4 linked regions of the Homo sapiens genome follow. The protein of the gene in region 2 interacts with the protein of the main gene of each other region in a pairwise test. Each region holds a gene or a part of one and is shown on either strand. Other genes may lie near its edges. The genes, in order: HSCB, FNBP4, ITSN1 and ITSN2.

Evidence for each region.
Region 1: the proteins of FNBP4 (region 2) and HSCB interact in a two-hybrid assay, tested with the Homo sapiens proteins (one large-scale study listed by IntAct).
Region 3: the proteins of FNBP4 (region 2) and ITSN1 interact in a two-hybrid assay, tested with the Homo sapiens proteins (one large-scale study listed by BioGRID).
Region 4: the proteins of FNBP4 (region 2) and ITSN2 interact in a two-hybrid assay, tested with the Homo sapiens proteins (one large-scale study listed by BioGRID).

Annotation. Positions count from the first base shown.
Region 1 is NC_000022.11:28,755,025-28,758,010, forward strand, and holds the end of HSCB (iron-sulfur cluster co-chaperone protein HscB isoform 1 precursor), read left to right. Parts: intron 1-2,053; coding exon 2,054-2,145; 3' UTR 2,146-2,486; downstream 2,487-2,986.
Region 2 is NC_000011.10:47,719,111-47,722,382, reverse strand, and holds part of FNBP4 (formin-binding protein 4), read left to right. Parts: intron 1-2,296; coding exon 2,297-2,454; intron 2,455-3,272.
Region 3 is NC_000021.9:33,645,501-33,649,098, reverse strand, and holds part of ITSN1 (intersectin-1), read right to left. Parts: intron 1-3,598. UniProt on the Homo sapiens protein: Adapter protein that provides a link between the endocytic membrane traffic and the actin assembly machinery. Acts as a guanine nucleotide exchange factor (GEF) for CDC42, and thereby stimulates actin nucleation mediated by WASL and the ARP2/3 complex.
Region 4 is NC_000002.12:24,308,443-24,312,040, forward strand, and holds part of ITSN2 (intersectin-2), read right to left. Parts: intron 2,251-3,598; coding exon 2,047-2,250; intron 1,939-2,046; coding exon 1,842-1,938; intron 315-1,841; coding exon 175-314; intron 1-174.

The sequences.
Region 1 (2,986 bases), on a different chromosome or scaffold from region 2:
ACCTCATGATCCGCCCACCTCGGCCTCCCAAAGTGCTGGGATTACAGGCGTGAGCCACCGCGCCTGGCCCTAAAATTTTTTGAATACAAAAAAGATGTTAAATAGGCCGGGCGCGGTGGCTCACGCCTGTAATCCCAGCACTTTGGGAGGCCGAGGCGGGCGGATCACGAGGTCAGGAGATGGAGACCATCCTGGCTAACACGGTGAAACCCCGTCTCTACTAAAAATACAAAAAATTAGCCGGGCAAGGTGGCGGGCACCTGTAGTCCCAGCTACTCAGGAGGCTGAGGCAGGAGAATGGCGTGAACCGGGGAGGCAGAGTTTGCAGTGAGCCAAGATTGCGCCACTGCACTCCGGCCTGGGTGACAGAGCAAGACTCCATCTCAAAAAAATAAAATGTTAAATAAATTAAATTGAGAAATGAAATACGACCAAGGCCTTCCAAGTCCCTGGTTGACATTTTGCCATTACATCTCCCTTCCACAGTAACCACTCCTGAATTTTGTGTTACTCATTCCCTTGCTTTTCTTGATAGTTTTAACCATATATGTACATAATAGTATATTATTTAGTCTCACATATTTTTCTTTATATAAATAATACATATCCTTCTGTGACTTTTTTGCTTAATATTTTATTTTTGGAGTCATCTGGAATGATGCAAATGGTTATAACATATCTTCATTTTAGCACTCTTCACATTGTGTTTTACTTATCTAAGTCAGGTTTTCTCAACCTTGGCACTACGGATATTGTAAGCCAGATAATTCTTCGTTTGGGGGAGCTGTCCTGAGTACTATAAGATGATTAGCAGCATCCCTGGCCTGTACCCACCAGATGTCAGTACTACCTCCCAGCTGTGACAACCAAAAATATCTCCAGACATTGCCAGATGTCCCCATGGGGGCAAAATCATCCCCAGTTGAAAATCACTGGTCTGGCCAGGCATGGTGGCTCACACCTATAATCCCAGCACTTTGGGAGTCCAAGGCAGGCGGATCACTTGAGATCAGGAGTTTGAGAGCAGCCATGGCCAACATGGTGAAACCCTGCCTCTACTAAAAATGCAAAAATTGGCCAGGCATGGTGGCGCACACCCTGTAGTACCAGCTACTCTGGAGACTGAGGCATGAGTATTGGTTGAACCCGGGAGGTGGAGGTTGCAGTGAGCTGAGATCACGCCACTGTACTCCAGCCTGGGCAACAGAGTGAGGCTCCATCTCACAAAAAAAAAAAAAAAGGAAAATCACCGGTCTAAAGGTGTCTTTCTTGGGAACTATAAGCCCCCGGAGGGTACCTCTGTGCCTCAGCACCTGAACTGTAAGCCCCCTGAAGGCAGCTCTATGCCTCAGCACCTGGCATAGAGGAAGCATTCAGTGCTTTCATATCCTCAGTATACCACCACATGTTAGGGAGAAATTTTTAAAACACAACCACCCACCCTTTTTTTTTTTTTTTTAAAGAGACAGGGTCTCACCCTGTCGCCCAGGTTGAAGTACAGTGGCACAGTCATAGCTCAGTGCAACCTCAAACTCCTGGGCTCAAGGGATCCTCCCACCTCAGCCTCCCGAGTGGCCAGGACTACAGGCATGTGCCACCATGCCTGGCTAATTTTTTATTTTATTTTTTATTTTTTATTTTTTATTTTTGGTAAAGACAGGGTCTTGCTTTGTTGCCCAGGCTGGTCTTCAATTCCTGGGCTCAAGCCATCCTCCCGCCTCAGCCTCCCAAAATGCTGGGATAGCAGGTATGAGCTCCTGCATCTAGCTTCCACCACCCATTTATTACTTGGGACTGTCCTGAAGAGAATCAACTTCTCTAATTTATGTGAATCCTGTACACATGCTCTTACACAACTCTCGCCCCATTTGGTTTATCCCTGTGTCTCCTTAACAATCCAGATGTTCTCCCTCTTCGTTGCTCAGTCTTACTGAGGAATTGATGAGCCCTCCGGACCCCAGGGCTCCACTTATATATCGCTGCCCTAGTCATCAGAGTTGGTTTTATTCTTGCTTGAAATGAAGCCTGACTTCAGTGTCTCTGTCTATTTCAGATGACTTTGAAGAAGCCAAGGAAATTTTGACAAAGATGAGATACTTTTCAAATATAGAAGAAAAGATCAAGTTAAAGAAGATTCCCCTTTAATTGTGGATAGTTTAAAGTTTAAAAAATAAAGTTCTTGCTGGGCACAGTGGCTCACACCTGTAATCCCAGCACTTTGGGAGGCTGAGGTGGGTGGATGACAAGGTCAGGAGTTCAAGACCAGCTTGGCCAACATAGTGAAACCCCGTCTCTGCTGAAAATACAAAAATTAGCCGGGCATGGTGGCGCGTGCCTGTAATCCCAGCTACTTGGTAGGCCGAGGCAGGAGAATCGCTTAAACCCGTGAGGTGGAGGTTGCAGTGAGCAGAGATCACGCAACTGCACTCCAGCTTGGGCAACAGAGTGAGACTTAATCTTGAAAAATAAATAAATGAAAAATAAAATTCTTGTATATTTCTTTTCTGGCTTCTGGTAATTGGGAATAGATAAGCCTTTACCGTTTATATCATCTTAATTAAGCCTATGGCTCAAGCATTAGTGGATGGCAAAGTTTGTCATGTGGGAAGAAACACAGCCTAGTCAGAGCTTGGGTGGTCAGTTCTTCATCTGATACTTGATACAACATGACCCCAGTGTAGGCTAATGGTTGAAGAGGTGGAGATGGGGCCAATTTGAGGCCCTACAAAGAGGAATCCAAAAACTTCTCTGCAAAGGGCCTGGTAGTGAATATTTTCAACTTTGTGGACTATATCAAGGGTCCCCAACCTGTTAGGAACTGGACCCCACAGCAGGAGGTGAGTGGCAAGTGAGCGAGCAAGCAAGCATTACCGCCTGAGCTCCGTTTCCTGTCAGATCCGCTATGGCCTTAGATTCTCAAAGGAACATGAACCCTATTGTGAACTGCACATGTGAGGGTTCTAAGTTGCATGCTCCTTGTGAGAAT
Region 2 (3,272 bases):
AAGCTATTAAAGAGGCTGAGGCGGGAGAGTCGCTTGAACCTGGGAGGCTGAGGTTGCAGTGAGCTGAGATCGCACCACTGCATTCCAGCCTGGGTGACAAAAGTGAAACTTTGTCTTAAAAAAAAAAAAGAAAAACGGGGATAAAAATTGGTCTTATCAATATCTAATATATTTGTCAGATACTCTCCCTAGGGGCTTAGGATTTAGCAGTACATCAAACAGACAAAAAAAAAAAAAACCCTCTGCTTTTGTAGAACCTTTCTTCTGGCAGGGGGTGGCTTGGGAGTAGATAAGGGAAAAATAAATCTATGAGAAATATTTTTTTTTCCTTTTTTTTTTTTTTTTTTTTTTTTTTTTTTTTTTTTTTTTTTTTTTGAGTCAGAGACATCCGCCACCACCCCCAGCTAATATGGCAGTTTGCTTTGTTGGTCTTTCCAGCTTTATTTTTTAGCTTTTTTTTTTTTTTTAATCATTTGATAGGAATGCTGCATCTATTTAAAATTTGAAAATGGGAACGCTGTAATTCTGAGGAGACGAGATAAAGGCAATATTTTGAATTGCATAGGGTAGGGAGGTTAAAGGAAATTTATATGACCTGATTTTATAAAATACCACATTTACAAATACCACCTTTTGAAACGGAGTCTCAAGAAAAGGGGCAAAAAATCTGTATGTTTATTATAGACGATTTAGACAATGAAGGTAAGCGAAAAGAAAAAATATTATATCATTATACCTTCTCTTAGAACTAACTGTATCATTGATTTTTTTTGGCAGGGGGAGGGGAGACAGAGTCTCTGTCACCCAGGCTGGTGTGCAGTGGCATGCTCTCAGCTCACTGCAACCTCTGCCTCCCAGTTCAAGCACTTCTCATGCCTCAGTCTCCTGAGTAGCTGGGGCGACAGGCATGTGCACCACCATGCCAGGCTAATTTTTGTATTTTTTATATTTTTAGTAGAGGTGGGTTTTTGTCATGTTGGCCAGGCTGGTCTCAAACTCCTGGCCTCAAGTGATCCACCCACCTTGGCCTCCCAAAGTGCTGAGATTACAGGTGTGACCCACCATGCCTCGCCCCATTGATGTTTTATTTTATTTATTTATTTATTTTTATTTATTTATTTATTTATTTTTGAGATGGAGTCTTGCTCTGTCGCCCAGGCTGAAGTGCAGAGTAGCTGGGACTACAGGCGCCCACCACCACGCCAGGCTTATGTTTTGTATTTTTAGTAGAGACGGGGTTTCACCGTGTTAGCTAGGATGGTCTCGATCACCTGACCTCGTGATCCTCCCGCCTCGGCCTCCCAAAGTGATTACAGGCATGAGCCATCGTGCCCAGCCGATATTTTTAAAAATCTGTTTGCTTTTTTTCATATTTAATTATGGCTATTTATTTATTTGAGACAGAGTCTCACTGTGTTGCCCAGGCTGCAGTGCAATGGTGCAATCTTGGCTCACTGCAAACTCTGACTCCCGGGTTGAAGCGATTCTCCTGCCTCAGCCTCCCAAGCAGCTGGGACTACAGTCGCCCACCGCCGCCGCCACCGCCCCCGGCTAATATGGCAGTTTGCTTTGTTGCTCTTTCCAGCTTTATTTTTTAGCTTTTTTTTTTTTTTTTTAAATCACTTGGGAGGAACACTGCATCTATTTAAAATTTGAAAACGGGAACACTGTAATTCTGAGACGCGATAAAGGCAATATTTTGAATTACATAGGATAGGGAGGTTAAAGGAAGTTTATATGACATAATTTTATAAAATACCGCATTTACAAAGCTTTATAGATTTTATTTATTTATTTATTTATTTATTTATTTTTTTGAGACGGAGTCTCCCTCTGTAGCCCAGGCTGGAGTGCAGTGGTGATCTCGGCTCACTGCAAGATCCGCCTCCCAGGTTCATGCCATTCTCCTATCTCAACCTTCCGAGTAGCTGAGACTACAGGCGCCCGCCACCACGTCTGGCTAATTTTTTGTATTTTTAGTAGAGACAGGGTTTCACCATGTTAGCCAGGATGGTCTCGATCTCCTGACCTTGTGATCCGCCCGCCTCAGCCTCCCAAAGTGCTGGGATTACAGGCTTGAGCCACCGCGCCTGGCCTGCTTTATAGATTTTTAACCAAGCCTTTTTGTTTATAATTGGTAAGAAATTTATGGCAAGAACTTAGAATGGTATTTACTTTCTTTTTTAAAGTGTGCATATTCTTTAGAACTGGGAAAAGGATCCTGACCTCCATTGTAGAGGACGCTTATCCTTATTTTATGTTTTCTATTCCTTTTGACCTTTAACCTTTGTTACAGGCAAAGAAGAGTAAGACCAAAATGCCATCTTTGGTAAAAAAGTGGCAGAGTATCCAGCGTGAGTTAGATGAAGAGGACAATTCTAGTTCCAGTGAAGAGGATCGGGAATCAACTGCACAGAAGCGAATTGAAGAGTGGAAACAGCAGCAGCTGGTTAGGTAAAAGAAAAGGAAACACAGATGAGATGGGGTTTTGGAGTAGGTTGAGACCTACTATGAGATGGAGTAGGTTGTGGTTGTTATAGATGCATTAGAATAGACATATTCTTAAAATCACAGCTTGTAAATTTATCTAAAGGTTTCTAATTTATAAACATGTTTAATTCCTTATAGAAATTATGGGCTAGCCTTTTTTCAAAATCAGAAACAACAGAGTTGTAATACTTTGTCCAGTTGATTGTTGGTCTTAGGCAAAGGCCTGTCTTAACTCTCAGTACATCATTTACTATCTAGATCCAGTGGACCCTTTTATACACACACACACACACACACACACACACACACACACACATACACACATAACATATTAACTTATTTTACAAATAATTTATAGAATTAGACCCTTTTATACACACACACATTATTGTACAAATGATTTACAGAATTAGAATAAAGTTTTTCCCCTGTCCCTATATTTCAGTCAAGCAGGGTAGAATACAGAGCTGCCTTCTCAATTGCACTTATTCTAGAACAGAAGTTAATGAGAGAGCACACCACACTAGGAACTAAATGAACCTCTTCTAGGTAAGAAAATCCTTCACTACCTTGCTTGACTAGAATAAAAGGATAGGGAGAACTGGCTTCAAGTAATTGCACCTCAGCCTCCCAGAGTGTTGGGAATACAAGTGTGAGCCACCACACTCAGGTCAGAAATATTTTTTATGATGAAAGCACATGTTGGGCTGGGCACGGTGGCTCACGCCTGTAATCCCAGCACTTTGGGAGGCCAAGGCGGGTGGATCACGAGGTCAGGAATT
Region 3 (3,598 bases), on a different chromosome or scaffold from region 2:
TCTTGCGTTTCTAAGACAAGTCCACATCACAAGTGAACTGCCTTTTCAAATTTCACTAGTCTTCTCTAGCACTCTAATCCTGTTTTTCATGCAGGGGTACTTTAGGAAAACCACTACAGAGTAAAGGATAACAAGACTACTTTAAGGATGAATGCTGGACAGTTGATGAGGCTAATTTTTCTCTCTCTCCTCTTTCTTTCTCCTTCCTTCTCTTTCTCTTTCTCTCCTTTCTTTTCTCTCTCTCTTGCCCTGCCCTCCCCTTTCTTTTTTGACAAGATCTCACTATGTTGCCCAGTCTGGAGTGCTGTGGCATCTGCAGCCTCCAACTTCTGGGTACAAACAGTCCTCCCACCTCAGCCTCCCTAGTAGCTAGGACTACAGGTGGGCATCACCTCACTGGGCTACTTTTTAAAAAATTTTTTGTAGGGTCTTGCTATGTTGCCCTGGCCAGTCTGGAACTCCTGGGCTCAAGTAATGCTCCCACCTTGGCCTCTCAAGTATTGGGATTACAGGAGTGACCCACAGCACCGGTCCCAAAGCTAATTTCTGAGCTAACTTATGTGACCAACTCTTCAGTGAAAGGGATTCAAATTTGTGCCCCACCCAGTTTATATATTAGTACATGTCAGAGAACCTCTTAGTTACTCCACAACAGCAATCGAGAACATAAAAAGTACCCAAATGCCTATAAAACATGTCTAGGAAACAGGCTAAGAGTTTTGGACTCTACAGTAAAAATCTGCTCAGACACTTGCTGGCTCTCTAATTGCTGGTACCCTAGTTTCCAAGGCATCTGTAAGATGAGAGTTTTTTGTGAAGTGAGTTAATGTATATAAGATGCTGCAAAAGAACTTAATCGACATTAGCTATCACTATTACCCATGCACAAGATTTCTGAGTTTCCATATCACACTACTAAACACATTATACTAACAGTCCATTCTTCTTCCTAAAAGCAAAAATTCACTAGGTTTGTCACTGGTTAAGTCATTCCATAAAATGGGGGAAGGTACAAGGGGCTGGGAGACTGGAAGTCTGATATACCATGGTAAGAGTATAAAATGATACAATCTTTCTAAATGACAAATTGGAAATACGGATTTAAAAAATCCTAAAATTTAGCATAGGCTTTGATCCTGCAAATTCCATTTGTAGAAATTTATCCTAATGAAAATAATCTCACAAGTACATTCAGAGACATATGTAGAAGGACAGTCACTGCAGGGTTATAAGTAACCGTGGAGGAAAAATAAACAAACTAATGTCTAATAAAAATAAATTGGCTAAACCACCAGAGATCCATGACTGGGTGTGGTGGCTCACGCCTGTGATCCCAGCACTTTGGGAGGCTGAGGCAGGTGGATCACCTGAGGTTAGGAGCATGAGACCAGCCTGGCCAACATGACGAAACCCCATCTCCACTAAAAATACAAACATTAGCCAGGCATGGTGGCAGGCATGTGTAATCCCAGTTAATCAGGAGGCTAAGGCAAGAGATTCATTTGAACCTGGGAAGCGTAGGTTGCAGTGAGCCAAGATTGAGCCACTATACACCAGCCTGGGTAACAGACTGAGACTCCGTCTGAAAAAATAAAAATTAAAAAAAAAACTACCATAGATCCATAAAACGGAATATTATTTGGTTACTAAAATTGTTATAATGCAATATATATATAGGAAAAGACACTCATGACAAGATGTTAAGCAAAAAAAAAGCAGGTTACAACCATATGTATAGCAAGATCCCATTTTTGTTACCAGAAATTGTATATGAATAGCCATATGCACACACACAAAAGGATTTGAAGAAATATGTATGCAGGTAGTAGACTTACGGGTATTTCATAGTTTTCTACTTTATACTTTTCTGTATTTCAATTTTTCTACCATAAAACAATTATCTTTTTAAATACAAAGAATATTAGTTGCTCATCATAAACTATATTTTAACCTAAAAGAGATCAGGAGATTTAGTATTTATTTTCAAAACTTATATTAATACATATTTGATAGCTTATTAAATACTTTCAATGTTTAGTCTAGTCATTCAATTAAAAAAATTATACATAGTACCAAGGAGTTAGCAATAAACTTTTTTTTTTCTTTTTTTTTTGAGACAGGGCCTTGCTCTGTCACCCAGGCTAGAGTGCAGTGGCACAATCATAGCTCACTGCAGCCTTGATCTCCTGGGTTCAAGTGATTCTCCCACCTCAGCCTCCGAAGTAGCTGGGACTATAGACGCACACCACCAAAGAAACTTCTTTTTTAAGCAACAGATTTCTACTTACTATCATAAAAGTCCAGTAGTACAATAATTAAATGGGTTAGCTTTTGAGTTTTAGGTATTTTTATACACCCCAATTCTTTATCATCACTGTAACTACCATTTATTAAGTGGATGTGTCTCAAAAACTTAGGTAAGCACTTAGAAGTATGTGAACTTTATTATTACTATTTCCATGTTCAGCTGAGAAATGAGGCATTGAGAGGTTAGATCAAACTCCCTGACTATGTGTGGTCAAACACAATATTCTCCAAAGTTTGAGCTCTTAACTACATAATATCTATGGTGCCCTGTGGTGAACTCTTGAAAAGAAGGTGTAAAGGTCAAATTTTATTAGTATGAAAAGTGAAATTGGAAAACATAACAATTTTCTCTATTTGCTAGAAACCAATTTTTATAGCAGTATGTTGGACTTATGGTTTATAAAATGATATTTTGATATAAGACAATATACCAAATATAAGTTTGATATATGATTTACCACTACACTGTGACTTAAATTTACATTTTGACTCTCTAAGCAAATGCTTTGTTCTGAATCTTCTTTCTGGCTAATCACCTTGAGCACACTACGCCTGGGAAAGGCTCTCTCCTTTCTAAACTAACCAAACTTACAGAAGTCACTGGGGTATAGTGCTTGTGGCTCCTAATTTATAAAATCAGTGACTACTAAAAAAAATTTTTTTGTAATATGCTGGGCTTTAATATGCCACTAACTGATAGATTAATTTGACAAGTAACTTTTAAAAGATTGGCCTCGCTGCAATGTAATTCACGTATTCACTCAACAAATGTTTAATTGAGTTCCTCCAGGCACTGTTTTAGGCCCTGGAGGTAGAGGGGTGAACCAAAGCCTCTGCCTTCTGAAAGGTGTACGACAGGTAAAATTACGCAATCACAGTCAATTGTTTTTTATTAGCAGCCTAAGGGATAAAACTTAATCTGCTACTTGAAAAACTTTCTATCCACTTCAGGAGCTAGTCTCAGGAGATGCTCAGAGAGAAGGAAGCCAGTGGTTTCCAACTTCCCTATGCAGGAGAAATTCCTGGAGAATGCATTAACAACACCAATTCCAGGGCCCCACCTCTAGCTGTCTGATTCTGAAGCGAGGTGACAGAAACCCGTATTTATTTTTATGTATTTATTTACTTACTTACTTTTTGGACACAGGCTCGCTCTCTCTGTCGCCCAGGCTAGAATGCAGTAGGGCAATCATGGCTCACTGCAGCCTCCATCTCCTGGGCTCAAGCGAACCAGATCCTCCCACCTCAGCCTCTAGAAAAGCTGGGAATATAGGCACGAGTCACTAAGCCC
Region 4 (3,598 bases), on a different chromosome or scaffold from region 2:
CATCTTTGAATCCTTATACAACTTCAGGTATTTGTATTTATCAAATGCCTGCTAAATTTTTTGGATGTTAAAATGTCAGATGAGCTACACAATACAAATTCAAATGACAGTTCTTCAGTGGAAGTCCACATAAAAGACCCTTTTTCATGCTCTTCAGCACTGTATGCTGCTTACCTGAGAGATATCCACTCATACTTTTGTCAAGAGTATTAAATTTTTGCCGATATTTTAATCTTGTAGGCTGAGGAACTGCCCACTCTGAGGTCCCAGTCTTGGGTGAGTTCCCTGAGAGTGAAGCAGTCGAGGAAGTTGAGCTATAAAAAAATTTATTTAAAATTTTTATGTTACTAAATAAAATATATTTAATTAAATTTTATAAGACCAAGGCATTAAGAATCTTATATACCAGGGGTCCTGAACCCCCGGGCCACCGACCTGTTAGGAACCGGGCTGGACAGCGGGGCTCGGTGAGTGGCAGGTGAGTGAGCACTACTACCTGAGCTCCAGCTCCTGTCCAGTGAGCAGTGGCATTAGATTCTCATAAGAGTGCAAACCCTATTGTGAATGGCACATGTGAGGGACCTAGGTTGGATGCTCCCTTTGAGAATCTAATGCCTGATGATCTGAGATGTAACAGTTTCATCCTAAAACCATTGCTTCAAGTCTGTGAAAAAACTGTCTTCTATGAAACCAGTCCCTGGTACCAAAAAGGTTGAGGATCGCTGTTACATACTATAATGGTGACTGCCTTTTCTCTTTTTCTGGGGAGGAGACAGAGTCTCGCTCTGTTGCCAGCCTGGAGTGCAGTGGCACAATCCTGGATCACTGCAACCTCCACCTCCCGGGTTCAAGCAATTCTCCTGCCTCAGCCTCTCAAGTAGCTGGGACTACAGTCACATGCCACCACGCCCGGCTAATTTTTTTGTGCGCATTTTTAGTAGAGACAGGGTTTCACCATGTTGCCCCAGGCTGGTCTCGAACTCCTGAGCTCAGGCAATCCGCCCACCTCAGCCTCCCAAAGTGCTGGGATTACAGGCGTGAGCCACTGTGCCTGGCCAATGGTGACTGCTTTTGCATTTTACATTTTTTTAAATTTTAAGCAATTATCACTATTCTTAGTAAAGCAAAGACCATAAGAAGTATAGAACTCCATGAGACTACCGCATATAAAGAACCTGCTCTGTGCCAGACCTTATATTGTACTAAGGCCTTTACAAATATTTCTAATCCTCCCAACAAACTTAAAAAATACTACAGTCCCCATCTTTTAGATGGGTAAACTATGGCTCAGCGATGTTAAGAAAAAACAAGGCCACAGAATCAGTGAGTGTTCAAGCTAGGATATGAATGTTGTTCTTCTGGGTCAAATCTAACACTCTCCGTACACTACCCTGAAGAGTATAATAGTGATTTATATGAAGGGTGATTAATGTAATGAATACTGATGCATTTGTGCTTTGTAAAATTTAAAAGATATCCAATTAGTAGAATCTGCTCAAGAAAGAAATTAACAATGTACAATGAGTATGAGACATCTTGGGAAATATACACATTTTTTAAAGGAAAAGTACACAGCTTTAGGCAAAGAAAAAATTAAAATATAGAATATTTTTAGTTTACATGAATTATTTTTTCAAAAGTAAAATGCCACAGACACTTAATAATTCTAAAAATAAAAAATTTATTTTATGTGAGTTGTAAGTAGTAAATTTACCTTAAGTATTTGTACTTGGCCATTATAAAGTAAAACTTAGGTAAGCTCAAAGCTTTAAAAAAATCATTTGTTAAATAAAGACTTCTTACTGAAAGCATAAAAAGTTGTCAGAGTTAGCTATTCATACCTACTAGATCCTAAATCAATCAGAGACTGCGCTTTCTGTATACTAGCACCTCCAAATCCTCCCATCATCAGACTATAAGATGACCCATGAGGCAATGCTAAAAAAGAAAAAGAAGGAAAAGTATGAAAGAAATTTGTATCTGTTCAAACACAAATAGTTTCTTTCTTTACATGAAATAATGACTCTTTAGAAACAAAGTACTCACTTGAAGAAGAATAAGGAATGGGTAAAGGCTGAATGAGACTGGCGGTTCCATTTGGTAATGATGATGTGCTAACAGAAGGCACTAGGGGAGTGGGCATCATTAAGGGAGGAAGGTTGGTCCCTGAAGTCGCAGAAGACAATGATGTTATAGGTGCAGCTGGAGGCAATGGCTGAGGAATGGACAGATTGGGCATGCTTCCCATTCCTAAAGTCAAAAGAAAACATTTTTTCCAGTGCTAGAAAATCAATTATAAAACACATGCAAAAAACAAGTTTACAGTACAGTGGGCAGACTCTATGTTTACCAAAACACACAGATGAATTATCCTTAAAAAACTCACTACTTTGACCCAGCAGTGAGGGAGGTAAACTGCTGCTCTTAATACTAATACTCTGATCTGTATGAACTAAGAAAACACCTAGCAAAGAGTTAAATATTCTCCTCTCTCATCATGAATAAAACTAAGCAGCCTTTTCCAATTGAATATGAGTCTCCTCAAGGAAAGAATACATTACCAGATCAAATGAGGTTTTTGTGAAAGGATAATACAGTGCTACTAAGTTACTTGACTAATACACACACACACACACACACACACATTCTTCTTCTCTCTCTCTCTCACATACTCCCCCCAAACAAAAAGGTTCTAAGTAGTAGATACTTTATGAGATCCATTTATGCATATGCATTATTTGCAAGAAAGTGTGTCACATATTTTACTTTTCTTGTAAGTAACATTCCTATGAATTCAAGGACGAGTTCTTAAAAGGAACAAAGTGATGACTTTTATTCATTTATTAACTGCAGAATACTTATAAATATGGTCACACAATGATTTAGTATTTATCTTTAGAATTCACTAAAATAGTGAAATAATTTTGTGGAGTCTGTTGTTTGTTTGAGATGGGGGTCTCACTATGTTGCCCCGACTAGAATGAAGTGGCTATTCACAGGTGCGATCATAGCACAGTACAACCTCAAACTCCTGGACTCAAGCAATCCTACCCATAGCCTCCCAAGCAGCCAGAACTACAGGCACACACCCCTATAACCAGCTCTAGAATTCTATATTCTAAGATCTGTAGTGAAGGAACATGTTTCAGATACATAGACATACCTAATTGAATGTTCCATTCAAAATGAGTGCTTCTCACATATAATTATAAGAAATTGCCTGATCAAAATTAACAGAAAACATACCAACCGGTTATCGCTGATGAATACGTGAACTTATTAGCCCAAAGTCTGCAACTTTTGGCCCTAAATTTAGCTGGCTAATTAACCTTTAAAAAAATTCAACTTACATAAAATTTTAAATTATCTCCCAAATCGAACCATTTCAAGTGAGTTTAAAACTGCTCAAAATTTTTTCTGTATTACTCACATATATATAGAGAGAGAGGAAACTAAGAATAGTATTTGGGATTGGCTATACCTAGGGAGACCATATAATTCATCACGCAACTAGGAGTTGTAAAAGGAGACACTAACTGGACCAGATGCCAGGACAAAAGGCATAAATCAGAACTGTCCCTAGAAAACCAGAACACAT